Homo sapiens: one gene and its partner. The protein of the gene in region 2 purifies or fractionates together with the protein of the main gene of each other region. This does not show direct contact. Each region holds a gene or a part of one and is shown on either strand. Other genes may lie near its edges. The genes, in order: TTL and LCP1.

Region 1 (16,517 bases), on a different chromosome or scaffold from region 2:
AAATTATAAGGGAAATTAGAAAATATTTTAATAAAATGGAAATGAAAACAGCAAAATCTGTGGGATTCTGCTAATGCAATATTTAGAGGGAAACTGATAAAGGGAAACTGAGACATGCTTTTATTTTTTTAAAAAAGAAATATCTCAACCATCCTGACCAACATGGAGAAACCCCGTGTCTCCTAAAAATACAAAATTAGCCAGGCATGGTGGCACATGCCTGTAATCCCAGCTACACGGGAGGCTGAGGCAGGAGAATCGCTTGAACCCAGGAGATGGAGGTTGCAGTGAGCCGAGATCGTGCCATTGCACTCCAGCCTGGGCAATAAGAACAAAATTCTATCTCAAAAAAAAAAAGAAATATCTCAAATCAATTATTTAAACTTTCACCTTAAAAACTGGAATAGGCTGGGCATGGTGGCTCACACCTATAATCCCAGCACTCTGGGAGATCAAGATGGGAGGGCTGCTTGAGCCCAGGAGCTTGAAACCAGCCTGGGCAAGACAGTGAGACCCAATTCTACAAAAAATAAAAAAATTAGCCAGGCACAGTGGTGTATACCTGTAGTCCCAGCTACTTGGGAGGCTGAGACAGGAAGATCCCTTGAGCCTAAAAGTTTGAAGCAGCAGTGAGCTATGATCACACTTGTACTCCAGCCTAGGCAATAAAATGAGACACCATCTCTTAAAAAACAAACAAAAAGCACAACTAGAAAAAGAGTAAATTATATCCTCCAAAAAGCAAAAGGAAGAGAATGATAAAGTGCATAAATCAAAGAAGCTGAAAAGAAAAACAACAGAGAAAACCAATAAAACCAAAAGCTAATTTTTTGAAAAGACTGATAAAATTGATAAATGTTTAGTCAATCTGTCCAAGCAAAATAGAGGGAAAATATAAATTAGCCAGGCATGGTGGCTTACGCCTGTAATCCCAGCACTTTGGGAGGCCGAGGGGGGTAGATCACCTGAAGTCAAGAGTTCAAGACCAGGAGGAGGAGCCAAGATGGCCGAATAGGAACAGCTCCGGTCTACAGCTCCCAGCGTGAGCGACGCAGAAGACGGGTGATTTCTGCATTTCCATCTGAGGTACCTTACCGGGTTCATCTCACTAGGGAGTGCCAGACAGTGGGCGCAGGCCAGTGTGTGTGCGCACCGTGCGCGAGCCGAAGCAGGGCGAGGCATTGCCTCACCTGGGAAGCGCAAGGGGTCAGGGAGTTCCCTTTCCGAGTCAAAGAAAGGGGTGACAGACGCACCTGGAAAATCGGGTCACTCCCACCCGAATATTGCGCTTTTCAGACCGGCTTAAGAAACGGCGCACCATGAGATTATATCCCACACCTGGCTCAGAGGGTCCTACGCCCACGGAGTCTCGCTGATTGCTAGCACAGCAGTCTGAGATCAAACTACAAGGCAGCAACGAGGCTGGGGGAGGGGCGCCGGCCATTGCCCAGGCTTGATTAGGTAAACAAAGCAGCCAGGAAGCTCGAACTGGGTGGAGCCCACCACAGCTCAAGGAGGCCTGCCTGCCTCTGTAGGCTCCACCTCTGGGGGCAGGGCACAGACAAACAAAAAGACAGCAGTAACCTCTGCAGACTTAAGTGTCCCTGTCTGACAGCTTTGAAGAGAGCAGTGGTTCTCCCAGCACGCAGCTGGAGATCTGAGAACGGGCAGACTGCCTCCTCAAGTGAGTCCCTGACCCCTGACCCCCGAGCAGCCTAACTGGGAGGCACCCCCAAGCAGGGGCACACTGACACCTCACACAGCAGGGTATTCCAACAGACCTGCAGCTGAGGGTCCTGTCTGTTAGAAGGAAAACTAACAACCAGAAAGGACATCTACACCGAAAACCCATCTGTACATCACCATCATCAAAGACCAAAAGTAGATAAAACCACAAAGATGGGGAAAAAACAGAACAGAAAAACTGGAAACTCTAAAACGCAGAGCGCCTCTCCTCCTCCAAAGGAACGCAGTTCCTCACCAGCAACAGAACAAAGCTGGATGGAGAATGATTTTGACGAGCTGAGAGAAGAAGGCTTCAGACGATCAAATTACTCTGAGCTACGGGAGGACATTCAAACCAAAGGCAAAGAAGTTCAAAACTTTGAAAAAAATTTAGAAGAATGTATAACTAGAATAACCAATACAGAGAAGTGCTTAAAGGAGCTGATGGAGCTGAAAACCAAGGCTCGAGAACTACGTGAAGAATGCAGAAGCCTCAGGAGCCGATGCGATCAACTGGAAGAAAGGGTATCAGCAATGGAAGATGAAATGAATGAAATGAAGCGAGAAGGGAAGTTTAGAGAAAAAAGAATAAAAAGAAATGAGCAAAGCCTCCAAGAAATATGGGACTATGTGAAAAGACCAAATCTACGTCTGATTGGTGTACCTGAAAGTGATGTGGAGAATGGAACCAAGTTGGAAAACACTCTGCAGGATATTATCCAGGAGAACTTCCCCAATCTAGCAAGGCAGGCCAACGTTCAGATTCAGGAAATACAGAGAACGCCACAAAGATACTCCTCGAGAAGAGCAACTCCAAGACACATAATTGTCAGATTCACCAAAGTTGAAATGAAGGAAAAAATGTTAAGGGCAGCCAGAGAGAAAGGTCAGGTTACCCTCAAAGGAAAGCCCATCAGACTAACAGCGGATCTCTCGGCAGAAACCCTACAAGCCAGAAGAGAGTGGGGGCCAATATTCAACATTCTTAAAGAAAAGAATTTTCAACCCAGAATTTCATATCCAGCCAAACTAAGCTTCATAAGTGAAGGAGAAATAAAATACTTTATAGACAAGCAAATGCTGAGAGATTTTGTCACCACCAGGCCTGCCCTAAAAGAGCTCCTGAAGGAAGCGCTAAACATGGAAAGGAACAACCGGTACCAGCCACTGCAAAATCATGCCAAAATGTAAAGACCATCGAGACTAGGAAGAAACTGCATCAACTAATGAGCAAAATCACCAGCTAACATCATAATGACAGGATCAAATTCACACATAACAATATTAACTTTAAATATAAATGGACTAAATTCTGCAATTAAAAGACACAGACTGGCAAGTTGGATAGAGTCAAGACCCATCAGTGTGCTGTATTCAGGAAACCCATCTCACGTGCAGAGACACACATAGGCTCAAAATAAAAGGATGGAGGAAGATCTACCAAGCCAATGGAAAACAAAAAAAGGCAGGGGCTGCAATCCTAGTCTCTGATAAAACAGACTTTAAATCAACAAAGATCAAAAGAGACAAAGAAGGCCATTACATAATGGTAAAGGGATCAATTCAACAAGAGGAGCTAACTATCCTAAATATTTATGCACCCAATACAGGAGCACCCAGATTCATAAAGCAAGTCCTCAGTGACCTACAAAGAGACTTAGACTCCCACACATTAATAATGGGAGACTTTAACACCCCACTGTCAACATTAGACAGATCAACGAGACAGAAAGTCAACAAGGATACCCAGGAATTGAACTCAGCTCTGCACCAAGCAGACCTAATAGACATCTACAGAACTCTCCACCCCAAATCAACAGAATATACATTTTTTTCAGCACCACACCACACCTATTCCAAAATTGACCACATAGTTGGAAGTAAAGCTCTCCTCAGCAAATGTAAAAGAACAGAAATTATAACAAACTATCTCTCAGACCACAGTGCAATCAAACTAGAACTCAGGATTAAGAATCTCACTCAAAGCCACTCAACTACATGGAAACTGAACAACCTGCTCCTGAATGACTACTGGGTACATAACGAAATGAAGGCAGAAATAAAGATGTTCTTTGAAACCAATGAGAACAAAGACACCACATACCAGAATCTCTGGGACGCATTCAAAGCAGTGTGTAGAGGGAAATTTATAGCACTAAATGCCTACAAGAGAAAGCAGGAAAGATCCAAAATTGACACCTAACATCACAATTAAAAGAACTAGAAAAGCAAGAGCAAACACATTCAAAAGCTAGCAGAAGGCAAGAAATAACTAAAATCAGAGCAGAACTGAAGGAAATAGAGACACAAAAAACCCTTCAAAAAATCAATGAATCCAGGAGCTGGTTTTTTCAAAGGATCAACAAAATTGATAGACCGCTAGCAAGACTAATAAAGAAAAAAAGAGAGAAGAATCAAATAGACACAATAAAAAATGATAAAGGGGATATCACCACCGATCCCACAGAAATACAAACTACCATCAGAGAATACTACAAACACCTCTACGCAAATAAACTAGAAAATCTAGAAGAAATGGATACATTCCTCGACACATACACTCTCCCAAGACTAAACCAGGAAGAAGTTGAATCTCTGAATAGACCAATAACAGGCTCTGAAATTGTGGCAATAATCAATAGTTTACCAACCAAAAAGAGTCCAGGACCAGATGGATTCACAGCCGAATTCTACCAGAGGTACAAGGAGGAACTGGTACCATTCCTTCTGAAACTATTCCAATCAATAGAAAAAGAGGGAATCCTCCCTAACTCATTTTATGAGGCCAGCATCATTCTGATACCAAAGCCGGGCAGAGACACAACCAAAAAAGAGAATTTTAGACCAATATCCTTGATGAACATTGATGCAAAAATCCTCAATAAAATACTGGCAAACCGAATCCAGCAGCACATCAAAAAGCTTATCCACCATGATCAAGTGGGCTTCATCCCTGGGATGCAAGGCTGGTTCAATATACGCAAATCAATAAATGTAATCCAGCATATAAACAGAGCCAAAGACAAAAACCACATGATTATCTCAATAGATGCAGAAAAAGCCTTTGACAAAATTCAACAACCCTTCATGCTAAAAACTCTCAATAAATTAGGTATTGATGGGACGTATTTCAAAATAATAAGAGCTATCTATGACAAACCCACAGCCAATATCATACTGAATGGGCAAAAACTGGAAGCATTCCCTTTGAAAACTGGCACAAGACAGGGATGCCCTCTCTCACCGCTCCTATTCAACATAGTATTGGAAGTTCTGGCCAGGGCAATCAGGCAGGAGAAGGAAATAAAGGGTATTCAATTAGGAAAAGAGGAAGTCAAATTGTCCCTGTTTGCAGACGACATGATTGTTTATCTAGAAAACCCCATCGTCTCAGCCCAAAATCTCCTTAAGCTGATAAGCAACTTCAGCAAAGTCTCAGGATACAAAATCAATGTACAAAAATCACAAGCATTCTTATACACCAACAACAGACAAACAGAGAGCCAAATCATGGGTGAACTCCCATTCACAATTGCTTCAAAGAGAATAAAATACCTAGGAATCCAACTTATAAGGGATGTGAAGGACCTCTTCAAGGAGAACTACAAACCACTGCTCAAGGAAATAAAAGAGGACACAAACAAATGGAAGAACATTCCATGCTCATGGGTAGGAAGAATCAATATCGTGAAAATGGCCATACTGCCCAAGGTAATTTACAGATTCAATGCCATCCCCATCAAGCTACCAATGACTTTCTTCACAGAATTGGAAAAAACTACTTTAAAGTTCATATGGAACCAAAAAAGAGCCCGCATCGCCAAGTCAATCCTAAGCCAAAAGAACAAAGCTGGAGGCATCACACTACCTGACTTCAAACTATACTACAAGGCTACAGTAACCAAAACAGCATGGTACTGGTACCAAAACAGAGATATAGATCAATGGAACAGAACAGAGCCCTCAGAAATAATGCCGCATATCTACAACTATCTGATCTTTGACAAACCTGAGAAAAACAAGCAATGGGGAAAGGATTCCCTATTTAATAAATGGTGCTGGGAAAACTGGCTAGCCATATGTAGAAAGCTGAAACTGGATCCCTTCCTTACACCTTATACAAAAATCAATTCAAGATGGATTAAAGATTTAAACGTTAAACCTAAAACCATAAAAACCCTAGAAGAAAACCTAGGCATTACCATTCAGGACATAGGCGTGGGCAAGGACTTCATGTCCAAAACACCAAAAGCAATGGCAACAAAAGCCAAAATTGACAAATGGGATCTCATTAAACTAAAGAGCTTCTGCACAGCAAAAGAAACTACCATCAGAGTGAACAGGCAACCTACAACATGGGAGAAAATTTTCGCAACCTACTCATCTGACAAAGGGCTAATATCCAGAATCTACAATGAACTCAAACAAATTTACAAGAAAAAAACAAACAACCCCATCAAAAAGTGGGCGAAGGACATGAACAGAGACTTCTCAAAAGAAGACATTTATGCAGCCAAAAAACACATGAAGAAATGCTCATCATCACTGGCCATCAGAGAAATGCAAATCAAAACCACTATGAGATATCATCTCACACCAGTTAGAATGGCAATCATTAAAAAGTCAGGAAACAACAGGTGCTGGAGAGGATGCGGAGAAATAGGAACACTTTTACACTGTTGGTGGGACTGTAAACTAGTTCAACCATTGTGGAAGTCAGTGTGGCGATTCCTCAGGGATCTAGAACTAGAAATACCATTTGACCCAGCCATCCCATTACTGGGTATATACCCAAATGAGTATAAATCATGCTGCTATAAAGACACATGCACACGTATGTTTATTGCGGCACTATTCACAATAGCAAAGACTTGGAACCAACCCAAATGTCCAACAATGATAGACTGGATTAAGAAAATGTGGCATATATACACCATGGAATACTATGCAGCCATAAAAAATGATGAGTTCATATCCTTTGTAGGGACATGGATGAAATTGGAAACCATCATTCTCAGTAAACTATCGCAAGAACAAAAAACCAAACACCGCATATTCTCACTCATAGGTGGGAACTGAACAATGAGATCACATGGACACAGGAAGGGGAATATCACACTCTGGGGACTGTGGTGGGGTCGGGGGAGGGGGGAGGGATAGCATTGGGAGATATACCTAATGCTAGATGACACATTAGTGGGTGCAGCGCACCAGCATGGCACATGTATACATATGTAACTAACCTGCACAATGTGCACATGTACCCTAAAACTTAGAGTATAATAAAAAAAAAAAAAAAAAAAAGAAGTTTACGGATAAAAGAATGAGAAGTAGACTGACATTGTACTTTTCATCAACGTGTTGAATGCCTAAAGAATGGAAGGAAAATAAGCTTAAAATTTTGAATCTATGATAAAGAAAACTATTGATTAAAAAAAAAAAAAAAAAAAAGAGTTCAAGACCAGACTGACCAACATGGAGAAACCCTGTCTCTACTAAAAGTACAAAATTAGCCCAGCGTGGTGGCACATGCCTGTAATCCCAGCTACTTGGGAGGCTGAGGCAGGAGAATCACTTGAACCCAGGAGGTAGAGGTTGTGGTGAGCCGAGATCGCACCATTGCACTCCAGCCTGGGCAACAAGAGCAAAACTCTGTCTCAAAAAAATAAATAAATAAATAAATATATAAATATATATATATATATACACACACACACACACATACACACACACATATAACCATTATCAGAAACGAAAGAGGAGACATCATTACAGAACCTGCAGACATTAAAAGGAAAATAAAGGAATATTACAAAAAATTTTTGACCATAAATTAGACAACTTATATGAAACAATTCTTTGAAAGGCATAGACGCCAAAGCTCCTTCAAGAAGAAACACGTAATCCAAAAAGATACAATTAAGTTACCTTATTATATGTTTGATTTGTAGTAAGATACTACTTTCTAGGGTAATGTTCAAAGCACTTGTTAGGTACTGATTGAACTCCTTGAAGAACATTTCATTTCCTTCTTCATACTTCCCGTAGTTCTTTGAATACTCTTTTTGAATGCAGTGATTGGTCAAATGGCAGGTTTTGTCTTGGAAATTATCAACATGATATGGTTCTGAAGCAGTCCGAAGCACACCCTCTCTATAGAGGTAGATATTATACTGATGATCCACCAAGACCCAGCTTCTGCAATTCAACAAAAACACTGCTTTACTCAAGTCATCCAAAGTTTCTGCATATTATATACATCAATCCCCACATCTTGACTTCTTTTATGGGGTAGGTAAGGAGTGGGAGGCAACTAGGGAAGGAGGAAGTTTCTAAAACTATAAGAGGCATGTTATGATTTAGCTAAGATAGTGAGTTATCACTACAATGAGGCAAACAAAACATTTTACCATAAATAACAGGGAAATTTGATCAAAAGATAAAAAAATCAGATGATTTTTTTTTTTTTTTTGAGATGGAGTTTTGCTTTTGTTGCCCAGGCTGGAGTGCAATGGTGTGATCTCGGCTCACTGCAACCTCCGCCTTCCGGGTTCAAGCAATTCTCCTGCCTCAGCCTCCTCAGTAGCTGGGATTACAGGCGCATGCCACCACGCCCGGGTGATTTTTGTATTTTTTGTAGAGACAGGGTTTCACCATGTTAGCCAGGCTGGTCTCAAAATACTGACATCAGGTGATCCACCCACCTTGGCCTCTCAAAGTGCTGGGATTACAGGCATGAGCCACCACACCAAGCCCTGGATGGGTTGGATTTTAAGGTTAACCTATGAAACCTCCATTTGTTATGTCTCCTCTTTGAGTAATCTTAAAGAGTGTTCCTCCTGAAGATGATCTGACCTATGTTGATGTTCAAGAAGCGACAAATCGTTATGAAGCAATCAAGGAGACAGAGTCCTTGGCAATGAGCTGACAGCAAGGCCAAGGGTAAGTTGGAGAGGGAGGGCTGTTTAGCTTTAGAATGCACCACACAACCTCTTTCTCCATGCCAAGCCCTTTGCTCAGAAACTTAAAATCCCCTGAGGTGTGGTCATAAAATCCACAGAGTGGGACACAAACAATGAAGTGAGGAGAAATTATTTGGCAAGGTTGCACAACCTGTTGTGTCTGAATTACGTGTTCCATGCACATCTCTCAGTTTATTCCATGAGCAAGACCATACATTTATATTCATTTCTTTGAATCCACAAGTCATTTTTATAGAAAAGATTTTTTTTTTTTTTTTTTTGACACAGGAGTCTCACTCTGTTACCCAGGCTGGAGTGCAATGGTGCAATCTCAGCTCACTGCAACCTCCCCTCCCTGGTTCAAGTGATTCTCCTTCCTCAGCCTCCTGAGTAGATGGGATTACAGGTGCCTGCCACCATGCCTGGCTAATTTTGTATTTTTACTAGAGACGGGGTTTCACCATGTTGGCCAGGCTGGTCTCGAACTCCTGACCTCAGGTGATCCATCCACCCTGGCCTCCCAAAGTGCTGGGATTACAAGCGTGAGCCACTGTGCCCAGCCAGAAAAGAATATTTTTTAAAAAAGAAAATCCATAATCGTAGTAACATTTTCTAGATGGAAAAAACAAGAAAGAAAAATAGAAAATTAGGTACAGAAGGTAAGTTCCATTCAGCTGTGCTCAATTTTGGTAACATATTAAACATGGTCAAACGCTTCCTCATATTCCATGTCCCCCTTCCCACCACATACCATGGCAGTTTTTTCAGATGAATAAAAACAAAAGCTATGGACATGAATGCATTACCGGATGTCAAACTTGCGATGACCTGGCTCAAGCAGCAGAGGGTGCTCAAGATATTTCTGGATCACGTGCACTTGGCCCTGGTTGTCTATGAAATCGAGAAGCTCTGAAGCCTCTGAGGAGATGAGAATGCCTTCACCTAACAGGGAAAAAGCAAAAGACAAACCAATCCAATTCAAACCAAGAGCTCTCTATAAATCCAGAAAGGAAATACGAACAGCAAAAACCCCACAAGAGGCTTTCAATGTCCCGCTCACCTTTTTCCCTCCCTTCCTTACTCCAGTCCCCCACATGCTCCCTTCTCCCCTCAAGAGCACCCAGGATTATCCTACCAACTCTTTCTCCATACAGGTGTCAACGCTATCTTGGCTGGCTACAACCATGAAACGTCAGTTTTACAGAAATTCGTAGTGCCTAAGCACTCAAAATAAATACCATTCTATTACTAGTCACTGGCTACCACAATAAAGACTATAACAACAATAAATCCCCTTCCTTCACTATATCTTATAGAACTACCAGGAAGATAAAGGCATAAAGATGAATGTTCAAGTACGTCCCTTGCAGCATTGCAATAGAAAAAACTGGATACATTGGAATTGTCCATTAACATTAAATAATTGATATATCCTTTTTAATAGCTTGAAGTATAATTCATATACCAAAAAATTTATCCTTTTAAAGTGCACAGTTCAATGGCTTTGAGTATATTCAAGAGTTTTAAACCATTACTACAGTTTTTGTTGTTATTTCTTTGTTTGTTTGTTTGTTTTTGAGATGGAGTCTCACTCTGTCGCCCAGGATGGAGTGCAGTGGCGCAATCTCAGCTCACTGTAACCTTCGCCTCCTGGGTTCAAGCAATTCTCCTGCCTCAGCCTCCCAAGTAGCTGGGATTACAGGCGTGCACCACCATGCCTGGCTAATTTTTGTATTTTTAGTACATATGGGGTTTCACCATGTTGGCCAGGATGGTCTTGGTCTTCTGACCTCGTGATCTGCCTGCCTTGGCCTCCCAAAGTGCTGGGATTACAGGTGTGAGCCACCATGCCCGGCCTACTACAGTTTAATTTTAGAACGGTTTCACCACTCCCCCCAAAAAAACTCTTGTACCTATTAGCAGTCACTCACTACTCCCTCCTCACCCCAGCTTCTGACAACCACTAATCTACTTTCTGTATCTATGGATGTCTCATCTGGACATTTCATATAAATGGAATCACACAGTATGTGGCCTTTTGTGTCTAATTTCACTTAGCACAAAGTTTTCAAGGCTCATCCCCATTGTAGTGTGTATTAGTATCATGTTCACTCCTTTCTATGGCTGAAGTCATTTTTGTTCATTTAGTCATCAATTGATGGACGTTTGCATTGGTTCCATTCTTGTCTGCCTCTTATGAATAATGCTGCTATAAGATTTGCATACAAGTTTTTATGAACATATATTTTCAATTCTCAGGAATACTACGTATGCAGGTGTGTGACACCACATTGGCTAATTTTTGTATTTTTTTTGTAGAGCTGGGGTCTTACTGTTTGCTCTTTTTCTAATTGGATTGTGTGTCTGTTGTTTACTGTTAAGTTTTGAAAGTTGTTTACATATTCTAGATCTGAGTCCCTTGTCATATGTATGACTTAAAAATCCTTTCACCCAGTTTGTAACTCATTTTTATCCTCTAATGAGGTGTTTCATAGAGCAGAAGTTTTATTTTGATGAGGTTCAATTTATCAATTTTTACTTTTATGGATTACACTTTTGGAGTCAAGCTCAAGAACTCTTTGCCAAGCCCTATCTCCTTTTTTCTGAAAAATTATTAGGTCCACGATCCATTTTGAGTTAGTTTTTGTATGAGGTGTGAAGCTTATGTTGATGTTCATTTTTCTGCCTGTTGATATCCACCTTATCTAGTACAATTTGTTGAAAAGTTTATCCTTCCTCTATTGAATGGCTTTTGCACCTTTTTCAAATATCAGATGGGCATATATGTTTTGGTCTATTTCTGAGTTCTCTATTCTCTTCCACTGATTTATGTTTCTTCTGTTTTTGAGACAGAGTCTTGCTCTGTCACACAGTGGTGTGATCTCGGCTCACAGCAACCTCTGCCCCCTGGTTCAAGCAATTCTCATGCCTCAGCCTCCCGAGTAGCTGAAAGTACAGGCATGCGCCACCACACCTGGCTAATTTTTTTGTATTCTTAGTAGAGATGGGGTTTCACCATGTTGGCCAGGCTTGTCTCGAACTCCTGACCTCAGGTGATTCAGCCGCCTTGGCCTCTGCTGGGATTTCAGCCGAGAGCCACCGTGCCTGGCCCCACTGATTTATGTTTCTATTTTTTCATGAATACTACAGTGTATTAAGTACTATAGCTCTAAAATACATCTTAATATCAGGTAGCATGTTCACTTATATTCTTCTTTTTCAAGATGTTTAAGCTATTCTAGGGCTTGTGCCTTTCCATATGAATTTTTATTATTTATTTATTGATTGAGATGGAGTCTTGGTCTTGTCGCCTAGGCTGGGCCCAAGCGATTCTTCTGCCTCAGCCTCCTAAATACCTGCGATTACAGGCGCCCGCCACCATGCCTGGCTAATTTTTGTATTTTTTAGTAGGAACAGGGTTTCACCATGTTGGCCAGCCTGGTCTCGAACTCCTGACCTCCGGTGATCCACCCGCCTTGGCCTCCCAAAGTGCTGGGATTACAAGTGTGAGCCACCGTGCCCGGCCCCTCCATGTAAATTTTAAAAGAAGCTCCATGTCTATACAAAAATGTTGCTAACATTTTGATAAGAACTACATAAACCTATAGACCAGTTTAGGGTGAACTGACATCTTTACTATACTGTCCTGCAATCCATGAACACGGTATGTCTGTCCATTTCTTTAGGTCCTCTTTGACTTCCTTCATAATCATTTTACTATTTTTAGCACACAGAGCCTATACATGTCTTGTTAAATTTATACCCAAGCATCACATTTTCTCTAGGGTGACTGTAAGTAGTACTGTAGTTTTTTGGTTTTTTTTTAGACGGAATTTTTGCTCTCTTGCCCAAGCTGGAGTGCAATGGTGCGATCTCAGCTCACTGCAACCTCTGCCTCCTGGGTTCAAGCGATTCTCCCACCTCAGCCTCTTGAGTAACAGGGATTACAGGTGACTGCCACCAAGCCCGGCTAATTTGTGTATTTTTATAGAGACAGGGTTTCAGCAAGTCAGCCAGACTGGTCTCGAACTCCTGACCTCAGGTGATCCGCCCGCCTTGGATTCTCAAAGTGCTGGGATTACAGGTGTGAGCCACTGCGCCCAGCTAAGTAGTTTTGTGTTTTTAACTTTGGTTTCCACATGTTCATTGTTGGCACATAAAAATGTGATTAAGTTTTGTGTGTTGCTCTCATATCCCGTAACATGGCTGAACTCACTCTTTAGTGAGTTGTCACCACTTCTTATTATAACCATTTTAATAAAAGTGTAGTGACAGTTCGTTGTGGTTTCAGTTTGCTAGAATCTTCTGATCTATGCTTTAGATTTATAGCTGATTTCTACCTGGATCTCATGCTTTCTTTATAAATGAATTCAATTCAGTTCATTAATTCAATGATCCACCTTTCCCAAACGTTAACGCCCTTTTCAACTATCTTCTTCCTGTCACTTGTTCGACCATCTGGTGAGCTTCTTGAACAAGAAACTGCAAATCAACCTGGAAAAGCTCCCTTATTCTCTTCCCCTACACACATGACTCATGCTGTTTCATCTCCCTTAGGAATCAGACTCAGATTTTTTGATACAACAGTATCAAAAATTATAAAATAAATTTGAATTTTATGTATCGTTTTATACCTACAAAATAAGAAAACAAAAATGGTGATACTTTTAGTAAAAGTTCGTCATGAACTGCTCCCTGTTAGCTCACGGCCCTTTGAAAAAGCAAGAGGATAACACAGAGCAAGAGCCATAAAGGCTTCATATCATTTGACCAAGTAATCTCATGTTTCAAACTTACTCTAATGAAATTTTTAAGAAGAAACAAGAGTCAAGGCTGGGTGTGATGGCTCATGCCTGTAATCCCAGCACTTCGGGAGGCTTGAGGTGGGAAGATCACTTGAGCTCAGGAGTTCAAGAACAGCCTGGGTAACACAGTGAGACTTCATCTCTACTAAAAATCAAAAAATTAACAGGGTGTGGTGGTGCACGGCTGTCGTCCCAGCTACTCAAGAGCTTGAGATGGGAGCGGGCCCGGGCACGGTGGCTCACGCCTGTAATCCCAGCACTTTGGGAGGCTGAGGCGGGCGGATCACGAGGTCAGGAGATCGAGACCATCCTGGCTAATGTGGTGAAACCCTGTCTCAACTAAAAGTACAAAAAATTAGCCGGGTGTGGTGGCTGGTACCTGTAGTCCCAGCTACTCGGGATACTGAGGCAGGAGAATGGCGTGAACCTGGGAGGCGGAGCTTGCAGTGAGCTGAGATGGCACCACTGCACTCCAGCCTGGGTGACAGAGTGAGACTCTGTCTCAAAAAAAAGAGGTTGAGTTGGGAGGATCGCTTGAGCCCAGGAAGTCGAGGCTGTAGTGAACTGAGATCATGCCATCTCACTCCAGCCTGGGCAACAAAGTGAGACCTTGTCTCAAAAAAAAAAAAAAAATACACACACACACACACACACACACACACACACACACACACACAGACACATATATATATAAAATAAAAAATTAAAATTAAAAAAGAAACAAGGGTCATCTACAGCAAAGACATTTACTACTGTTATCTGTAATAGTGGAATAATGGGGTTGTTTCTAAACAATAATTTTCTGTTATAGATGTAGTGTGTTCCCACGCTCCAGGTGAGAGGTGAAGGTGGCTAGATTAGAAATAGGCAGTGGACATGGTAAACAGTAGCTTCATAATGGGTAGAGTTTGAAGGTTGAGCCAACTATACAAAGCATGTAGTGGGTACCAAATAAATACTTGTTTAACAAGAATAAAAACCATTCATTCATCCTATTGGTTTCATTTTATGGTTTCCAAACATAATAAATATATATCAAATATATATCTCTTCAACTCTTAAAGCAAAAAGTCTTTAGCATTTTATTCTCTCTTGACTTCCCCCTGCTGCTTGGTGTCCCTCTGAGTCTTGTCTTAGTGAGGGTCCAGGGATCACCAGGTGTCCTCACAGTGGCCATTCTGACTCCAATCCCAAACCCACAGGAGAAGGGATGTCTATTTCCTCTTCCAAATCCGTCATTTACCATTGGAACCACACTAGGGGGCAGTAGTTGAGAAAAGGTCACAAGAGGGGAGAGAGAAGTAGGTGAGATACCTGACTTGTGGCAAGAGTCCAACTCTCCCCCTTTCAGGGATACCAGTTGAGGCCTTCCTGTCTCATCGCTGGTGGAAAAGAAGGTGAGGTCCCTTCGACCCGGAACAGAAATGAGTACCAATGGCTAGATGTCTTCCAAGGCAATACAAGAAGTGAGTTCAAAATGGAATGGTTTTTTTTTTAATTTTTGAGAAGGAGTCTTGTTCTGTCACCCAGGCTGAAGGTGCGATCTCAGCTTACTGCAAGCTCCACTTCCCGGGTTCACGCCATTCTCCTGCCTCAGCCTCCCGAGTAGCTGGGACTACAGGCACCCGCCACCACACCCAGCTAATTTTTTGTATTTTTAGTAGAGACGGGGTTTCACCGTGTTAGCCAGGATGGTCTCAATCTCCTGACCTTGTGATCCGCCCGCCTCGGCTTCCCAAAGCGATGGGGTTACAGGCAGTGAGCCACTATGCCCAGCCAGAATGGTTTTATAAAGAGCGTATGAGGGCATTAACATAGACAGAGATTGTTTATGTGTTCATTACATTGGGAACTGCCTCTATTTTCAGCCTGAGTTAACATTATAAACCTTACCCCTTACATGCATTCATTCAACATATATTTGTTGACTGCCTATGAGGAAGGTACAAGGATGAATAAGACAGAATGTCTGTGTTTGTGTGAAGCCTACAGAATAATAGGAGAGATGGACAGAGAAGTAGTATAGTGCCAGGAAAAGGTTAATGTCAGGAGGTAAATGAGGCAGGGGAAAGGGAAAGAAAGCAATGGACACGGAGGCTATTTTAGATTAGAAAAGCCTTCCCTGAGGAGCCAGCAACTGAGGTAAGAGAAACAAAACAATCCATGTAAGCACATTCTAGGTACAGAGACAAGTTTGGAATATTCGAGAGATACTAGGCAGTCTTTGTGTCTACAGTGCAGAGAGCAAAGCTGAGGATAGAAGGAGATGAGATCAGAGATATGGGCAAATGTCAAATGGTGCAGGCTACCATTAGGAATCCGGAGTTCATTCTAATTGCATTAGGAAGCCAGCTGGTAAGTCTTAAGTAGGAAGTAACATGATTAGATTTACGTTTTGAAAACATTATTGTCTGGAAGGAGAACTGGTTGAGAGCAGGCTCGGCAGTTACACACAGTAAAAAGAATGGGGGTTTTGATTTAGAGGGGAAGCAGGGGAAACGGCAAGAAATAGTCTATTCAGAATATATTTTGAAGGTAGAGCTAGCAAGAATTGCTAATGCATTAGGAGTAGATTGTAAAGAATACAGTAGTCAAGGATGAATCCTAGGTTTTAAGCTTCAGAGACTGAGTGAATAGTGGGATCATATACTAAGTGGAAAGCGTGAAGGAGGAGCAGGCTGGCGTGGGCAAAGTTGGGAAGGAAATGAAAAGTTCTGTATCAGATGTGTTCAGTTTGAAATGCCTTTTAGAGATGGTGAGGGTGTCAATGGATCTAGAGCTTAAAGGAAAAGACCATACTGGAGATAGACATTTAGAAGGCATCAGTACATAGATGGGTATTTATAACTATGTAACTAGACACGGTCTCAACCTTCGATGATTCAGATTAAAATAGGGTCATTCATCTAAATACATCACAATAGCAACTTACCAGGAATAGAGAAGGGGACAGCAGTGCCAACTCACCTTTGGCACCGGCTGATGACTTTGCAATCCAAACGTTGCCCTCTCCATCCTCTTTCTT
Region 2 (16,798 bases):
CTGCAGACACTCAGCTTTAAAGAACTGGTACTGGAGATATGGTACTGGAGGAAGAACTGCGTGCAGTGAACAGTAGGGTGGGTACGGAGGGAGGAGAAAAACTGTGTGAACATCACCAGGTAGATGAAGTATCACAACTGTCATTCTCAGTGGTCACAGAAAAGAAACAGAATCCATGATATTTTGAGGAACAGTCCCAACATGAATGACAGCAAGAAAAGGAAAAAATCCAAAGTTTTCCAAGGTGCCTACCATATTCCATATTTTCAAAGGGAAACTTTAAAACTGTTTATAAAGCATTAGAAACAGTGGGGGAAGTTCAGTTCGCATTTTTAAGATGACAAAAGAGTGCTCAACAGTGCAAAACTACAGGCATGATCTTCTCTTTTTTCCTTACTCCCACTTTGCACCTATTACCTAGCTTTCTCTATAAAGAATTTATATCCCACTCTTCTTTGTTCAAGCTGGCCTTTCTGGTGAGGGTGATATGAGCAGATGATGTCAAGGAGGTACAAAGGATCTACTTTTTAAATGTTACACCTGAGATTACTAGAGGCTGGGAAGGGTAGGGGGAAGGTGGAGGATAGGAGAGATTTGTTTAGATACAAAATTATAGCTAGACAGGAGGAATAAGCTCTCATGTTCTATAGCACTATAGGATAACTATAGTTAACAGTACATAGTTTTAAAATGGCTAGAAGAGAGGCGATTGAATGTTTCCAGCACAAGAAATAAAAAATGTTTGAGATGATGGATATGCTGATTACCCTGATCTCATCACTAGACATTGTATGTATTGAAACATTACTAGGTACCCCATAAATACATACCGTTATATGTCAATTTAAAAATAAATAAAAACTGAAAAAACATTTTCAGGATGGAAGCTATATTGAATGCACACACATCTATTATAATCTCATGAATTATTATAAAAGGTTTTTATGGAAAAAAAGTTGCACCTGAGGTTAATAAAGATCCACTTCTAATTTTAAACTTTGCCTAAGGAATGCTGAATAGGGAAAATATGCAAATTTTATACAAATAACATTTGTGTATCCTTTTACTTCACACATTTGGATACATAGCTTGGATAAATTTTAGTGACTACTACCAGACTGAGGAAACAAAATGCAGGGTATTATTTAAATACAAGGTAATTGTTCCATTAATTCACTTCCCTCTAGAAAGTGCAACCAGAAAAAGAAGGAAAGCAAATTATCTGGGAGATTGCAATTCACATGCATAATTAATCTGCTTGCTGAATTTGGTGTCAGCTTTTCTGCTATGGAAAACATAATCTCTTTTTCACTTTAGCTTATCCAGTCAAGAAGGAGTGTGTGAGTGAGTGTGTGTGTGTGTTTCCGTGTATGTGTGTTTATTTGTGTGTGTGTGTGTGTGTGTGTGTGTGAGAGAGCGAGAGAGAGAGAGGGAGGGAGACCCTCCCTTCTGTCCATGTAACAGATGCTGAAATAAGAATCAATGCTGCAACCACAGAACTGTGGGTTTGCTAGTTCCCCAATTTAACATAGCTTTTCCTTCCGCCAGAAAGAACAACTGACCATCTTTGAGTAACAGGCTCCTTGTACTTGCAAGTGGGGCTGACACAGCCATGGCTCTGAAGTTGAGCAAAACTTACTTAAACCCAGTAAGTGGTTCACTTTTACCTCTCTTCTTCCACTAACATTTAAAGCAATGTTTCATTCTTTCTCAGTTTTTAGGACACTTATATTTGGCCATTACTATACAATCATAGATATGTGTACTTGGGTATAAAAAGTAGAATGTTTAATCTATTCATGTCTATCAGTCACAACAGACTAGAAAATGTGAATGCCACTTGACTAAAATTATTCTAAACTTTAAAGGCCGGGCGCGGTGGCTCACGCCTGTAATCCCAGCACTTTGGGAGGCCGAGGCAGGCAGATCACGAGGTCAGGAGATCGAGACCGTCCTGGCTAACAAGGTGAAACCCGTCTCTACTAAAAATACAAAAAATTAGCCGGGCGTGGTGGTGGGCGCCTGTAGTCCCAGCTACTCGGGAGGCTGAGGCAGGAGAATCGCTTGAACCCAGGAGGCGGAGGTTTCAGTAAGCCGAGATCACGCAACTGTACTCCAGCCTGGGTGAGCCAGGAGGCAGAGGTTTCAGTGAGCCGAGATCGCGCCACTGCACTCCAGCCTGGGCGACAGAGTGAAACTCTGTCTCAAAAAACAAACAAACAAACAAACAAAAGACTAAGAACCTTTTAAAGTTTTTGAGGGTGGAGATCATGTTTTGTGACCCATGCAGAGGCCTGTAATTGTTAACAACCAACTTCTACTCAGTCAAGTGTACAGAGGGGCTGACTACTGATGCTGTTGCTGCTGCTGCTGCTGCTGATGGTGATGATAATGATGATGATGATGATATGATGACACAGAATAATTTGTTTATAAAAGCACTTATCATATAGATGCATTTATTTGGGGAAGTATTATGATTATTTGAGCTCAACTTGAGGGCTTAGTTACAAATAAGCACCATGGTTTGCTACCTGTTTATTCCAGGAAGTTGCCTTGAAATTCAACAGTTAAGACAAAATTGATCCAATTGTAGAAAATTAAATAAAATACGTGAATGAATGAACTTGCCTTCAAATATGAAGAGGACACCAGACACTACCTCACAGGACTGTATGACAACTAAATGCTTTCATAGGGTTAAAGCACTTAGAAAAACACCTGATTCAATGTAAGTATTAACGTTATTATTAGGATGATTAATTGAAGCGCCTTCCACTCCCCCCCATCCCCCACCGATATCTTACAAGATGGAGCAGTTATGCAATTTCTGGGCAGACTGATGTAAGCATTGAAACTGACAAACCAAAACAACAGGAACAGTCAATAGTATAAGGCAGGAAGTTGGATCAGAAGGGAACTGAGGAAAGCAACAAGGAGATGCCATCTGGGGAACACCACGGCCACAGCAGCTATAGGGAGATATCCCTAGGAAACCAACATCTAATCAGGAGGTGACTTCCGAGAGCCTCAAAATGAAGACCCTGTAGAACATTAACACTTTTTTAAGGAGTGCGCTTCCATCTGGCAAAATAGGAACACTTGAAACTCTTCAAATCTGTGGACACTGATTAGTTTTATATTTTGATGTGTCCTAATTCTAATGTTTATTTCTGCAGTGTTCAGTATACAGATGAAATAGTATCATTTCATTTGATATCTGTAAGTTGGGAAACTAGCAGATAAAAAAACACTAGGAAGAAAATTAGATTAACTGAAATAATGTCACTCTACTATAAAATCTACTATTAGTAATAAAGTCCAAGCCTTTATAATCTTATTTTATAAGTGTTTGACTCTTCATAAGTATAACCTTATAAGCAGATTTCTTAATTTTATTTTACCTAAGCTGATTTTAAAAGTTGCTTGCCATCTCTCCTGTATACACAGAAGGGCCTGTACTCTTTAGGTAACAAGGAGAAGTTGACTTGAGAATTTTCTGAGAATAATCCAAAGTGACTAAGTAAAAGTTAACAACTGCCCTTGTGTTCTTTGTCATCAAAGAGGCCCATTATTGGGTATATAGTTTTGGCAAGGGTAGCTAAGTTTTGGCCCAACCAATGTATTTATACTAAAAAAATGAGATTGTAATTTTCCCTGTTTGTTAGTCATTGTACAATTTTTTAAATTTCTTGAGGTCAATGTCTATATGATACTTTGAAGCTAAAATGAGACTAGGGCTTCGGTAAAGCTGAAACATGGTAGAATGCAAAATATTATATTATTGTTGCATCTTCATTCATAGCAATAAATGGAAACTCAGTAAATATTAAGTTAATAAGTACAATCAAAGTCTTTCATGCGTATGTAAGAAGCTGAGAAAAAAAATACTTGTGACAAATTTTCAATTCAATAAATGCCTTTAGTATCTACATGTGCCAGGAAAGATGGAGAAGGAGCTCAGGTCTGTCAGCAAATAAGTACTTGAAACTAAGACAATGTGATTAATGTTATACTTACTCCAAGATCAAAGCATTGAGCAAATGCACACCAAAGAAACATTTAGTGGGGGCAGGGAGAAGATGGGAAGGCCTCCAAAAGGGTATGTTTCTTGAAGTCCGCCTTGAAAAATGATCAGAAGTTTTAAAAATAAAGAAGAATGCAATTAAAGAAACAGTTGCAGTGAAAAAAGGTGAAAGAGAATGGAACTTTCTGGTGGCTTGTGGTCTGGTGCACCAAAATGTGGGTTAGCAGTGGCGGGGGAGGGGATGGGGTAGTGGGAGGTTGAACAGAAGGAAGTGACAAGAAATAAGATTGGGGAAGTGGGTCGAGGCAAGTTTGTAAAGGCACACAATTCTTTAGTAAAATTATGCATTAATTTAAAAATAGTTCTTCAGCCCATTATTATATAAAACCTGCAATGGTATCTCTTATTTATAAAAATAAAAATGTTTGTAAATTTATTACAAAGTTTTTCTTCTCTCTCTCTCTCTCTTCTTTCTCTTGCTCTCTCTCTTTTATTCTCTCTTAAAACTGTGAGTGCCAAGATCTTGTTAGCTAGCTTCAGTAATAAAAGTCTATAATCACCTACCTCTGAGAAAAATATGCTGGCCTGGAAGGGAGGATCTGTAACACACACAGTCAGTAGGAGCCTGAAATCCTGGCCATCTACTGCCCCCCACCCCAACTGCCCAGTGACCTATGGCCGGTTCCTTCAATTATCTAGCCCATTCCTTATCTCTAAAGGTAGCTGAGAGGATTAAACGAGGTAATGCATAAAGAGTAGCTGCTTACACTACGTGCTCATAATTATTGAGTGCTATTATTAATTTCCTGTCCTCTCCAAGTTAAATGGTACTTTAACAACAAGTAAATGAGACTTTACTTGTTGGTCTTCCCTTCCCCAAAGGGTTCAGAGATAGAATTATAAATGAAGTTAAAGCACTGAAATTGTTTCCCAAATTACCAATTGTTTCAAGGCATAATTTACAAAAGAGACAAAAATTTAAATGCTACAAAGAAAAGGGTCTCTGGGATTGCTAAGGAAATGTCCTCCTAGGCACAACTCCATCCCACCACAGCAGTGCTTGTTCAAAGGGCAAGACCTAGAAGATTTTTCCCCTGATGTTCCTGGGGGTGAGCTAGAATGAAGAGGAATATCTTTGTAACATATGGGGTTGATGCTTTAGCAATGTAAACTTAACTTTAAACAGGGGACCTTTATATTTTGAATTAACTTTCGCATAGTTCTTTTTTATTCCTTCGTAAATATAAGAAAAATACTGACATTCCTTCACATTCGAATTTATTTTATTCTCATTAATAGTTTTACTTAAAATAAGACACAACATATTTTTAGTCTGTTCTTTTACGGGGTTCAAGTCCCTCTTATCTCAGTTTCACATTTTTGCTTGTTTGAAACTATTCAGGTGAGATGTGCAAAGTAACATTGGTGGTCACATTTTGCAGTTTCCAGAAATTCACATTTATAGGTAAATGATTAATTCTATTCAAATTTGTCTACACAGACATTCTTTAAACAATTATACTTAATAGAAACCAAACTTATGACAAATGTATGTAAATTCAAAATCAAGATGTGTGTGGATAAGCCACCTTTATTTGCTTACTGATAGTTCTGACAGAGTAATTTTAGAAAACAAGTTGCTGTGTAAAAGAAAAGTTCGGTTTTGATAAACATCCTGATTAATGTTCGCATTTCCAGTCTGAATGGCTTTTATAGTTATCATTTGTCAATGGTTCTTAGTGTTATGTGATAGTGGTAATTAAGTAAAAGCTTATACTACAAAATCCAAAGTGTCTATGTTTGGGCAGTTTCTGAAATAAATATCCCATATCAACTGTGTAAAAATTTCTATTGTAGATAAAAGCCTTTCTCCCAGAATTTGAGTGAATATTCATTGATATGGTCATAAGCATAACAAATAATTCAGACAATCCTACAAAAACACTACAATTAAGCATTATACAAATTGCTTTTATTTTTAGAGAACAAATGGAAAAGAGAAAACCTCTAATTCCATGTGGTTATAAAGCACACCCATTAAAAACCCTTGGCGCCAAAAATCACTCAAATAACCAGTATCACATTCAGTAACATATGACTCTAGATAATTTATCCACTAAAGTACTGTAAAGAAGTTTTTTAGAAAAACAGAACCGCAGGAACTAAAATTAAACTACCCCCATTGGGCCAATAAGCCATACAATCTAAATTATCAATACGCGCTTTTCCTGAAAACATTTTAAAGAAGATAAAATCACAGTAAATAGCCTCCGTGAAATAGAGCAATAGAAATAAACCAGAACATGGTTTGGTTTTAAAAGGAAAAAGAAACCTTAATTTTGGGCAGGGGTGATAACTGCAGATAAGTTGAGAAGAACCCAGCCCAGAGAGCCGAGGTGCTCCATCTTGGATGGCCACGCGAGGTGGCGGCAGATGTCCTGGCCAGTTAGACAGTGGCAGGAATCACAGAGGTCTCAGGTGACATGCTCAGATCTCTGGTCCCCTGAAGGCAAAACCCACAATCCACAGAAACAGTGCCGAAGTGCATCACAAGCGCTTAAAACCAACAAAAACACATGAAGAACATTTACCTTGCAGGAAAAAAGCTGTCCTTGGTAGTACTGGTGTATGACCAGGAACCCCTTCTTTCTGATCTGCAGAACAGCTTTGTCAAGCCTGGGTGTGTGGTCACAAGGCAGGAAGTGACTAGAATGACAAATCATCAGCCAGGAAAGAAAAAGATTTTGTCTTTATAAGGACATTTTAACTTTTTTTTCATGTCCCCGCCCCACCAAAAATCACCTGACAGAACAGGTCACAGTGAAATTCAGACACCTCCTACCACTTCCTCTTTTTTTTTTTTTTTTTTGAGACAAGGTCCCGCTCTTTTGCCCACCTCTTTATAAGCATTTTTCTCTCTCCCTTTCTCCTCCAGCTGTCTTTGAGTAGTCCCTGGGCTACTTAAACCTTTCTGATTCTAGATAGCAAGGCAAGATCAGCCTGATAACTTGACTTCTTTGACTCTAGTTGCAAAAGCAAAGCCCAGATGCCTACCTACTTACAGCAAAGATCAACAAATTTTTCATTTTTAGTGAAAGAGCCAGGGAAAAAGGTGGCAGTACACCTGAAACAAATGAAAAGGGACTTCCTTGGGAAAGCCCCACCCCACCTGAAATCAAACCTCTCTGGAGTCCTCTAACAGTGATCTTATTGGTGCAAACAAAACAGAACGATCTCTTTAAGTGAAGGACATGAAAAGGAAGGTTACTAGATTATTTACTCATTCTTTTATTTATAGAACATCTATGTGCTAGGGATCTCTTTAACCCAATTAAGTATCTCAATTATTTAAGCGTTTCCTATAAAGAGCAGCAGTAGATTGCACAGGCAGCTGTTATATTTAAATGGGTAGCTTAATTCCTTCTTACAGGCAGGATTTTTTTTTGAATGCACATTTTATAAAATTAGCAGGTGGTGGCAGGGGAAGCTCTGTTCTGTACCCAAACCCCAGATGCTTGAGGGCAAATTCCTATCTTCAAATGGAGCATCCTCAAGTGCTCACAACAGTTGTGAAGACTGTGGCACCCTGAGTTATGTTGACTAAATATTAGACATGTCTCCACATTGCCCGGAGACTGTGTGTGACTCCAGTAGTCAATCTGCCGTTTAGGAATGAGGGTATGTGGCTGTACTCCCAGGTCAGATGCTGCGCTGAAGATATCTGCTCCAGAGTTGACATGCGTCCGTGTCCGCTGGGCCACGGGCCTCTCAGGTGGTCACGGTATTCTGACTGGTTGGAGGGCTGCCCTTATACTTCTTTTGCTTTTTTGATTTCTCCTCTAGAAAGTTCCTGTTTCTGACCTTAAATGTTAAACCAAACTGTTCTGGTTTATCTACTTCATTAGCCAGTGGTGTGGTGACTTCATCAGAAGCCCACAGGGGCTATCTTGAGGAACTGGGTGGGCGGAAGAACAGGACGAGACGGTGGGGATTCTAGAAACGGTTCACCTCACAGAGAGCTATCAGCCCTCTTGTGATTTCCCAGGGAAGACTGAGGGGGTGATGGGACTCTGTTTTCTCCATCGCATAATCACTCCCAATTAATAAGTTGCAGAGAGCTTTCAAGAAGCACCTACATTCTTTCAGGACACCAGAGGAACATCCATGCATCACTGTTACAGCACTGCTCACGCTACAAAGCAGCAAAATGCTGTCTTCATTCGGGGCCCTGCAGCAGGACTCTGTAGATAATGTCCTGCTGGTGTTACAGATACAAGGGGTTGTAACTGTGGACCTCCCTGATCTGGTTCCACATCCTGGTGGCTTCAGGATGGCATAAAGGCCCAACAGTAACACTTCATGAAGGGGAACAGATATTTATTCCTTTACCTTGGAGAAGGAAAGCACAGTGTTCTGTATCTAGTGGTGCCTGGTCATCTGAGGCCGGAGGAATCTATGAAGAAGAGCAAAATATATTTGTGCATTGGTTCAGCAAGTGTTTGCATGCCTGTCTGAATTGGTGATTCAGAAATAAATAAGACACAATCGCTGTTCTCAAGGAGTATAGTCTAGTGGGGAAAAAACATGTAAGTAAATAAATGCCATCTATAATAGAGGGGTGAAAAAGGCAGTGTGATATCAAAGCAGTTGCAGATTTGAGCAGAGGTGATGTTTGTTAAGTGAAGAAAAAGATTTAGGATTCCAGGCAACGTCGAGGTTGTAGAAGATGAAAGGCATTGACCTGGGTACTGCTTACAGCCACCCAGTTAATAGAGTCGTCTTCTACCCTAGCATCCACGGCAGGCACCCACACCCCCTCAGCCACATCCTGGCCGGCACCATTGCAAGCCCTGCCCTACTCCCTCAATCTTAATCTCTTTATCTGCCTCTCATTGGTGTAAGTCTACCCAGTTTCAGGCAATTGTTTAGGTCCTAGACCAAGACTTTTTCAGAGAAGTGTATTTTTTTGCTGTTGGTGTTTTAAATTGCTTGTGCAGCATAGTACTAGTAAACAGAAGACTGACTTTTGGTTTTCTTACGTTTTTATGTTCTGTACAGACAGTGCGCCCCCTTATGGCCTGAAGCCGGAGTGGACCTTTCTCAGCCCACCCTCTATGAGCCTCCACTGCCACCTGTTCCTGGCCTGGGTTTTGCCTTCCTCTAAGCCCTACCACCCTCTCAGACTTCATCCCACCCTCTCCTGCCCTGAAGCCTCTGGCCTCAGTCCCAGATATCAGATCACCTGCTACTCTCAGGCCTCTAAATATTGCTGAGGAAAGTCACAGAAACACAAACTTGGAATGCTAAAAAGTCAAGATGCTTGACTTCAAATTACTTTCAGAAATACTTCTATTCAATTTTACTAAGTCTTGAGAACAGGCATTCTCAACCTGGAGTCCATAGACCCCTAAAACTAAATGCACAATTTTGTGTGTATGTACTTTTTTTCTGGGAGAAGGGTCCATTGTATTAGTAAAGAGATCACAGACCCCAAAAAGTTGGGTATTTATTCTAAACTCTCTCCTCTTGCCTCAACCTTCCACTTCACCCTCCTATGCTTTGTCCTGGCCCAAGATTCTTCTGTTGCCCCTTCTTGACTGAGATGATCCAAGTCGTCTGGTATGAGCTTCCTCTCTACTTCCACAATATCCACCTCTTCCTCCTCTCTTTCAGTCTTAATGGAAGCGGCATTCTTCTTTCTTCCCAAGGTCAGTGTTTCAACACTATCTCACTCTTAATATTCTACTTCCTTAGATATCTTGCTCCATCAATTGTCTCGTGTTTCTCTAGCATCTTAATGCTAGCATCTTCAGCTCTCCCCACTTCCTCTCCATGCACTCATGGGATTTGTATGAAGAGAAAAACACCTTTGCTTCACTCTGCAGCCCACCCTCATCCCAACATATCATGGGCAGGGAATGAAGATGAATTAAGATGGGTACAGTCCTTGCCATTGTAGAATGTCCACTGTAGTTGAAGACACAGACAAGGAAAAAAGGCAAGTGAAGAGTTATCTACTTGGAAGCACAACAGACGAAAAGCAGCGTCCCTAGGAGCACACAGCACTAACCCAGACATGGGACCTGGGAGGCAGAGAGAGGGAGCATCAAAGTGGTGAAGAGTAAAGATGCTGGGCCAGCTGGCTGGGGTCAAGTTCCAGCTCTACTGTTGTACTAGCTGTGTGATCTTGGGCAAATTAGTTACTTGCACTGGCCTCAGTTTCCTAGTCTATAAAATGGGGGTAAGAACAGTGTCTATTTTAGACAGTTGTTGCAAGGGGTAAGTGAATTGATATATGTAAAGAACTTAGAAGAGTGCCTGGCACGTAGTATATCCTATGTACGTGTTAACTAATCGCTTAATATTTACGTCAGGCTCTGGACTAGACCCCTAACATCCATTATTTCATTTATTCCTCACAACAACTCTATGAATTAGGTATGATTGTTAATTTTTTTCTTTAATTTTTAAAATAATGGCTTCATTGCAATATGATTTACATACCATAAAATTCACCTTTAAAAAGTATACAATTCAGTGGTTTGTTGTATTTTAACAGAGTTGTGCAACAATTACACTATATAATTCCAGAACATTTTCATCATCCCCAAAAGAAACTCTGTACCTGTTAGAGATTCCTCCCCATTCACCCCCATCTCCCAAATTCCCAGCCACAGCCAACCACTAGTTTATTTTCTCTCTCTATAAATTTGCCTATTCGGGACATTTCATATAAAGGGAATTACACAATACATGCTCTTTTGTGACGAGCTTCTTTCACTTAGCATGTTTTCAAGGTCCATCCATGTTGTAACATGTCACTACTTCATTTTATTATTTATTCATTTATTTTGAGATAGGGGCTCACTCTGTCGCCCAGGCTGAAGTGCAGTGGTGTGATTATAGCTTGCTGAGGCCTTGAACTCCTAGGCTCAAGCCATCCTCCCGCCTCAGCTTCCTGAGTAGCTGGGTCTACAGGCACGCACCATCACACCTGGATATTTAAATTTTTTTTTTTTCTATAGAGACAGGGTCTTGTCATGTTGGCCAGGCCGGTCTCGAATTCCTGGGCTCAGGTGATCCTCTTGCCTCGGCCTCCCAAAGTGCTGGGATTACAGACATGAGCCACTGCACCTGACCTTCACTCCTTTTTATGGAAGAATGCTATTCCACTGTATGAATATATCACATTTTATTTACTCATCAGCTGATGGATATTTGGATGCTGCCTACTATTTGATATTATAAAAATGCTGCAATTAACATTTGTGTACATTTTGTGCGTGTGGACATATGTTTTCTTTAATTTATTAATCAAAGTAATATATGTATTTGGTTTTAGAAGTCAAATATTACCTCAAGGCTTCTCATGAAACACCAGTCTCCCGACACACTCCTTCACCTCTGATTCCCATTCCCTAGAACCAAGTATTTTGAACAGTTTTAGCTAATTCTTCTGTTATTTTATTACATATTTCTAGATGTTATGCTTATGGTGTATCTTGATTGGGTTCAGATACCTACATATATTTATGTATATGTATATATATGTTCATATATTTTTTCCTTCCTACTTGAGAGATAAATATTTGACCCTCTCACATCCCCCAGTCCAACATATACATGTTAACCTTCCCATCATCCTCCAGAACAGTTTATAATACCCTTTTATTTAAATCAATACTCAGCTTTTACAGTAACTCAAAATATTCATAACTGAGTTAGGAATATTTTGCATTATGTTTTTGTATCTTTTTTTGATATGCTAGGTTTCTACGTACTTATTACTAATTCTGTATAAACTCTCCAACAGAGCTAAAATTCAATTTAAAACATCAAGAAATGAATCCATTCCTTGTTTCCCCCTTGGAGAGGCCCTTCCTCTGTTCGGTCCTGCTGCCCAGCTGCCTTCTAGAAGCTTCCCTACCTCATCACTCTGGGGACTCCTTTATTCTCCATCTAGGCTGAATCTCCTATTTCTGGACCACATGCCATCCACTTTCTTTGTCTACTTCCTTGTTTTAATGAGCATATCCTCTAGTAGATTCTTGAGAAACGTTCTATGGAACGTAAATTTCTTGAGACATTTTATAGCTGAAAACGATCTCCATTCTTTGAAATCCACACTGGAAATCATTTTCTCAGAATTTGGAAGGGATTGTTCCTGTGTGTTCTAGGTTCCAAGGTTGCTGTTGAGACATCTGATATCATTCTGACTTATGGTCCCTCTCACATCATTTTTGGTTTCTCTCTGAAAATTTTTAGAATTTTTTTTAATGCCAGGTGTTCTGAAAATTGTTGGTGATTTGTCCTAGTGTAAGTCTGTTTTCATCTACTGTGCAAGTTACTCAGTGGTCTTTTCTAATTGGGAAATTCAAGTCTCTCAGTTCTGGGAAATATTTTCTCTCTCCATCTCTCATTTCCTTTCCTCTGTTTCCTATGCCCTATTTCCCTGGGATTACATTTATTTGCATGTTATGCCTCTTGGATTAATCTTCTAATTTTCTTTTTTTCCTCCCATTTCCTGCCTCTTAGCCTTCCTATTCTACTGTCAGAGAGAATTTTTCTACATTTTCTTCAAAACTTCCATTGAACGTTTTATTTCTGCTTTCACCTCAAAATTTCTCTCGTAGTCTGTTTTGTGCTGTTATAACAAAATATCTCAGACTGGGTAAGTTATAATAAACAGAAATTCATTGGCTCACAGTTCTGGAGGCTGGGAAGTCCAATATAAGGTGCCAGCATCTTATGAGGGTCTTCTTGCTGCCTCATCCCGTGGCAGAAGGCAAGAAGGCAAGAAAGCAAGACTGGGATAAACTTGCTTTCTTATAATGGCATCAATTCTACATGGGGCAGTGCCCTGATGGCCAATCACCCCTTAAAGGCCTCACCTCTTAATACTATCACATTGGCAATTAAATTTCAACATGAGTTTTGGAGGGGACATTCAAACCATAGCAATAGCTAAAAACTCTTTTTTTCTGAATGTTTCTTTTTTTATTTTATAAAGCAACATGTGGGTGGGGATAAGGTGGGGAATGTCTTACTGCTCCTTATATAAACTTTCTACTAATCTTCCTATTTTTCAAGTCCCTCTTGCACTCTGCCTCCAAAGGTATCTGGTGCCTCGGAGTTCTGAGCTTTGCTGAGTGTCCATGGTGGGATTTGAATTACTTCTCTTTGGCGTCTCTCATTATAGGGTTAGAATTCAGCTTTTCCATATGTGTTAAGGCTAGTGTTATCACCTATTTCATGGTCTCCAACATACTGCTGACATCTCTGGTATACTTATTGCCTCATTTGATATTGGTGTCTCCTACTAGGAATTCCATGAGGCCAAGGGCCGTGTTTGCTTTATTAACTTCTAAACACCATATCCAACATTTCAGAAATGTTTGTTGAATAAATTAATGAAGAATGACATGGAAAGGAAAGGTGGAAATGTACTATAAGCATAAAGGAATGGCATGTGTGAAAGATCAGGTGGGAGAAATAAAGGTATGTCAAAAATATGACCAAAGCTGGATGCTACTGCAGTCAAGAGAGCGAAGCTGGGGGAAAGTGCAGAGAAAGAGAAAAGCTGGAGGATTTTGCAGAGACCAAGTCATAGTGGATCTTTTAACTGTGTTAAGGAATTTGGGCTTTGCCCTGTGTATTAATCAGTTTTCCAGTGAAACAGAACAATAGGATGTGTGTGTATGTGTGTGTGTGTGTATGTATTTATGTATGCATGTATGTGTATGTATAAAGAGATTTATTACAAGGAATTGCTTCATGTGATTAGGGAGGCTGACAAGTCCCAAGATCTTCATGACGATTCAGCAAGCTGGAGACCCAGGAGAGCCAGTGGTGTAGTTCTAGCCTGAAGGCTGGCAGGCCTGAGACCCAGGAAGAGCCAGCGTTTCAGTTTGAGTCTAAAGGGAGAAAAAAGCCAGTCTCACCTCAAAGGCAGTCAGTCAGGAAGAATTCTCTCTTACTCAAGGGGTGGTCAACCTTTTTGCTCTATTCAGGCCTTCAGCTGATTGGATGAGGGCCACTCCCTTAGGGAGGGCCATTTGCTTAACTCAGTCTACCAAGTTAAATGTTAACATCACCCAAAAACACTGTCACCAAAACACCCAGAATAATGTTTGACCAAGTATCTGGGCACTCCATGGCCCAGTCAAGTTGACACATGAAAAATTAACCACCACCCTGCAAGCAATGGGGAGCCATTTTAGGATCCATATTTACTTTCTAGGGCTGTTTTAACAAAGTACCAAAAACTGAGTGGTTTAAAATAACGAAAATGAATTGTCTCACAGTTCTGAAGTTAAAAATATGGAACTACAGTGTTGTAGGACTGGTTCCTTCTGAGAGTTGTGAGAGATAATTTATTCCATGTGTCTCTCCCAGCTTCTGGTGGGTTTGCTGGCAACATTTGTTATCCTTGGCTTATAAAGGCATCACCCCAATTTCTGCTTTTATCTACACATTTGCATCTAAATTTCCCCTTTTTAAAAAAGATGACAGTCATATTGGATCAGGGCCCATCCTAATGATCTCATCTTAACTTGATTGTCTGCAAAGACCCTATTTCTAAATAAGGCCACATTCATAGGCATTTGGATTTAGCACTTCAATATTTTTGGTAGGGCACAATTCCTAACAGAGTCATAAGTGGAAAGTGACACAATTATACTTGAGTTTTAGAAAAATCCCCCTAGCTCCAGTGAGAAGAATAAGATGGCAAGGACTATAAGAAGAGTGGGGAGAATAAAGACTGGACCATCCCAGAGGCCTTTGCCTTGGCAGGGCATAAGGTGATGATGGTGGCAGTGGGATAATGATATGTGGGTGAATTCCAGAGACAGTTGATAGGCAGAAAGGAGAAGAAAAGACTGATTGACTATAGAGGAAGAGAGAGATTGAATATAATGGAAGGAGCATGGGAAACTGGGTGGTAGAGAGTAGTAACATTCAATGAGATGAGGAATTCAGGAGGAGTGGTTTGGACAAGAGGATTATGAATTTAAGAAATGCTACCTTTGTTCATTTCCATAGAATCTCTATTGGGCTGCTGTTCTCATCACTCTTCTGAAACTGGACTCTACTCAGTCTTCAATGTCCTTGTTTTTATGCAATATTTGACACTGTTAACAATCCTTTCCTTTTCCAATTTCTCTTCTCCATGAACAGTTATTCATATTTAAGTGAAAAATAAACAAGTCTATTTTGAAATTCCAATAATAATCTCCAGTGTCTAAAACTGAACTCATCATTCATTTGACAAAGAAGCTGCCCCTAGCCCATCTCTTCCTTCATTCTGCCAAGAGTGGACTACACCCCCAGGATGGTCCAGAGTACTCCTTGAGTCCTACTTTTTTTTTTTTTTTTTTTGCAATTCCCACATGTGGTCAAAGTTTCATTTATTTTTCCCTCATAGTATTTCTCGGTTTTGTTCTTTCTTTGCCACTTTTGCCTTATCACATTTGGATTAGCTTCCTGATTTCCCTGTTTTTTTTTGTCTCAGTGCTCCTCTCTCCATCCTGCATAGCAGCACCACATGACTCTTCATAAGGCTACAGTTCTCTCCCTTCATTCTCCTGCTCCCTGTGCATCTGAAGTTACTCATTGCTGCTAGAAAAATGTCCAAACTTTGGCTCAATCCATCTTCCAAGCCTCAGAGCAACAACGTAAGCCCTCTAGTGTCTTCAGGCTGGCCTGTCCTTGACCCTCTGGAAGCCTCACACATTTCTCATTATGCCTGTGAGATTTTTGTGCTCACTCTCCCTGCCTGTCTCTCCACTCCCCTTGTCTATAAATCTGAATCACTCTCCTAGAACCAAGAACAGAACCAACTACATAATTTGTGGCCCCCAGTGCAAAATAAAAATGTGGAGTCCTTTGTTTAAAAATTAGGAATTTTTAGACAGTGACAGCAGAGCATTAAACCAAGTGTGAAGCCCTTCTGGGCACAGGCTAGGAGGCTAGCCTGACCAAGAATCTTCCCGTGACCACCAATCTATCCTTTCCTCTCCCGCTAAAGCCTATAGTACTTTTTATAAGACATTCTTGACACTTATTGCATGCCACATTTGTCAACTAATCTTTATGACTATATATCTCTATGTGTTTGTTGCATTTTTATTCATTCCTCAAGCTCTTATTAGGATCATACCATGTACCAGGTACTCAGAAAACAAACCTAAAAGACTCAGTCATATAAATTTGGGAAGTTTGCAATCAGGGAGGTTGCCAAACATAATTATAATACCTTGTGATAAACTCTGATAGAAAGATGCATATGGTACCAAAAGCAAAATGACAGTAAGGTGCCAGGTAGGAAGGCATCTTAGAAGAAGTATAGCTTTAATCACAATGAGATACCATCTCACCCCTGTTAGGATGGCTATTATCAAAAGGATAGAAGGTAAGCATTGGCAAGGATATGGAGAAAAAAGGAAACCTTGTACACTGTTGGTGGGGATTCAGTGCAAATTAGTATAGCCATTCTGGAGAATATGGAGGTTCCTCAAAAAATTAAAAGTAGAACTACCATATAATCCAGCCGCCTGTGCAGTCTCACACAGGCCTGTGCCCAGAAGGCCTCCACACTTGGTTTAATGCTCTGCTGTCGCTGTCTAAAAATTCTTCATTTTTAAACAAAGGACTCCACAATTTTATTTTGCACTGAGGGCCACAAATTATGTAGTTGGTTCTGTTCTTGGTTCTAGGAGAATGATTCAGATTTATAGACAAGGGGAGTGCAGAGACAGGCAGCGAGAGGGA

The links.
Region 1: the proteins of LCP1 (region 2) and TTL purify together in Homo sapiens (affinity purification with mass spectrometry; 2 studies listed by BioGRID and IntAct, with this or other methods). This does not show direct contact.

The regions. Positions count from the first base shown.
Region 1 is NC_000002.12:112,494,318-112,510,834, reverse strand, and holds part of TTL (tubulin--tyrosine ligase), read right to left. Parts: coding exon 16,460-16,517; intron 9,630-16,459; coding exon 9,494-9,629; intron 7,924-9,493; coding exon 7,654-7,923; intron 1-7,653. UniProt on the Homo sapiens protein: Catalyzes the post-translational addition of a tyrosine to the C-terminal end of detyrosinated alpha-tubulin.
Region 2 is NC_000013.11:46,175,493-46,192,290, forward strand, and holds the start of LCP1 (plastin-2), read right to left. Parts: upstream 6,686-16,798; 5' UTR 6,619-6,685; exon of another isoform or gene 1-6,618.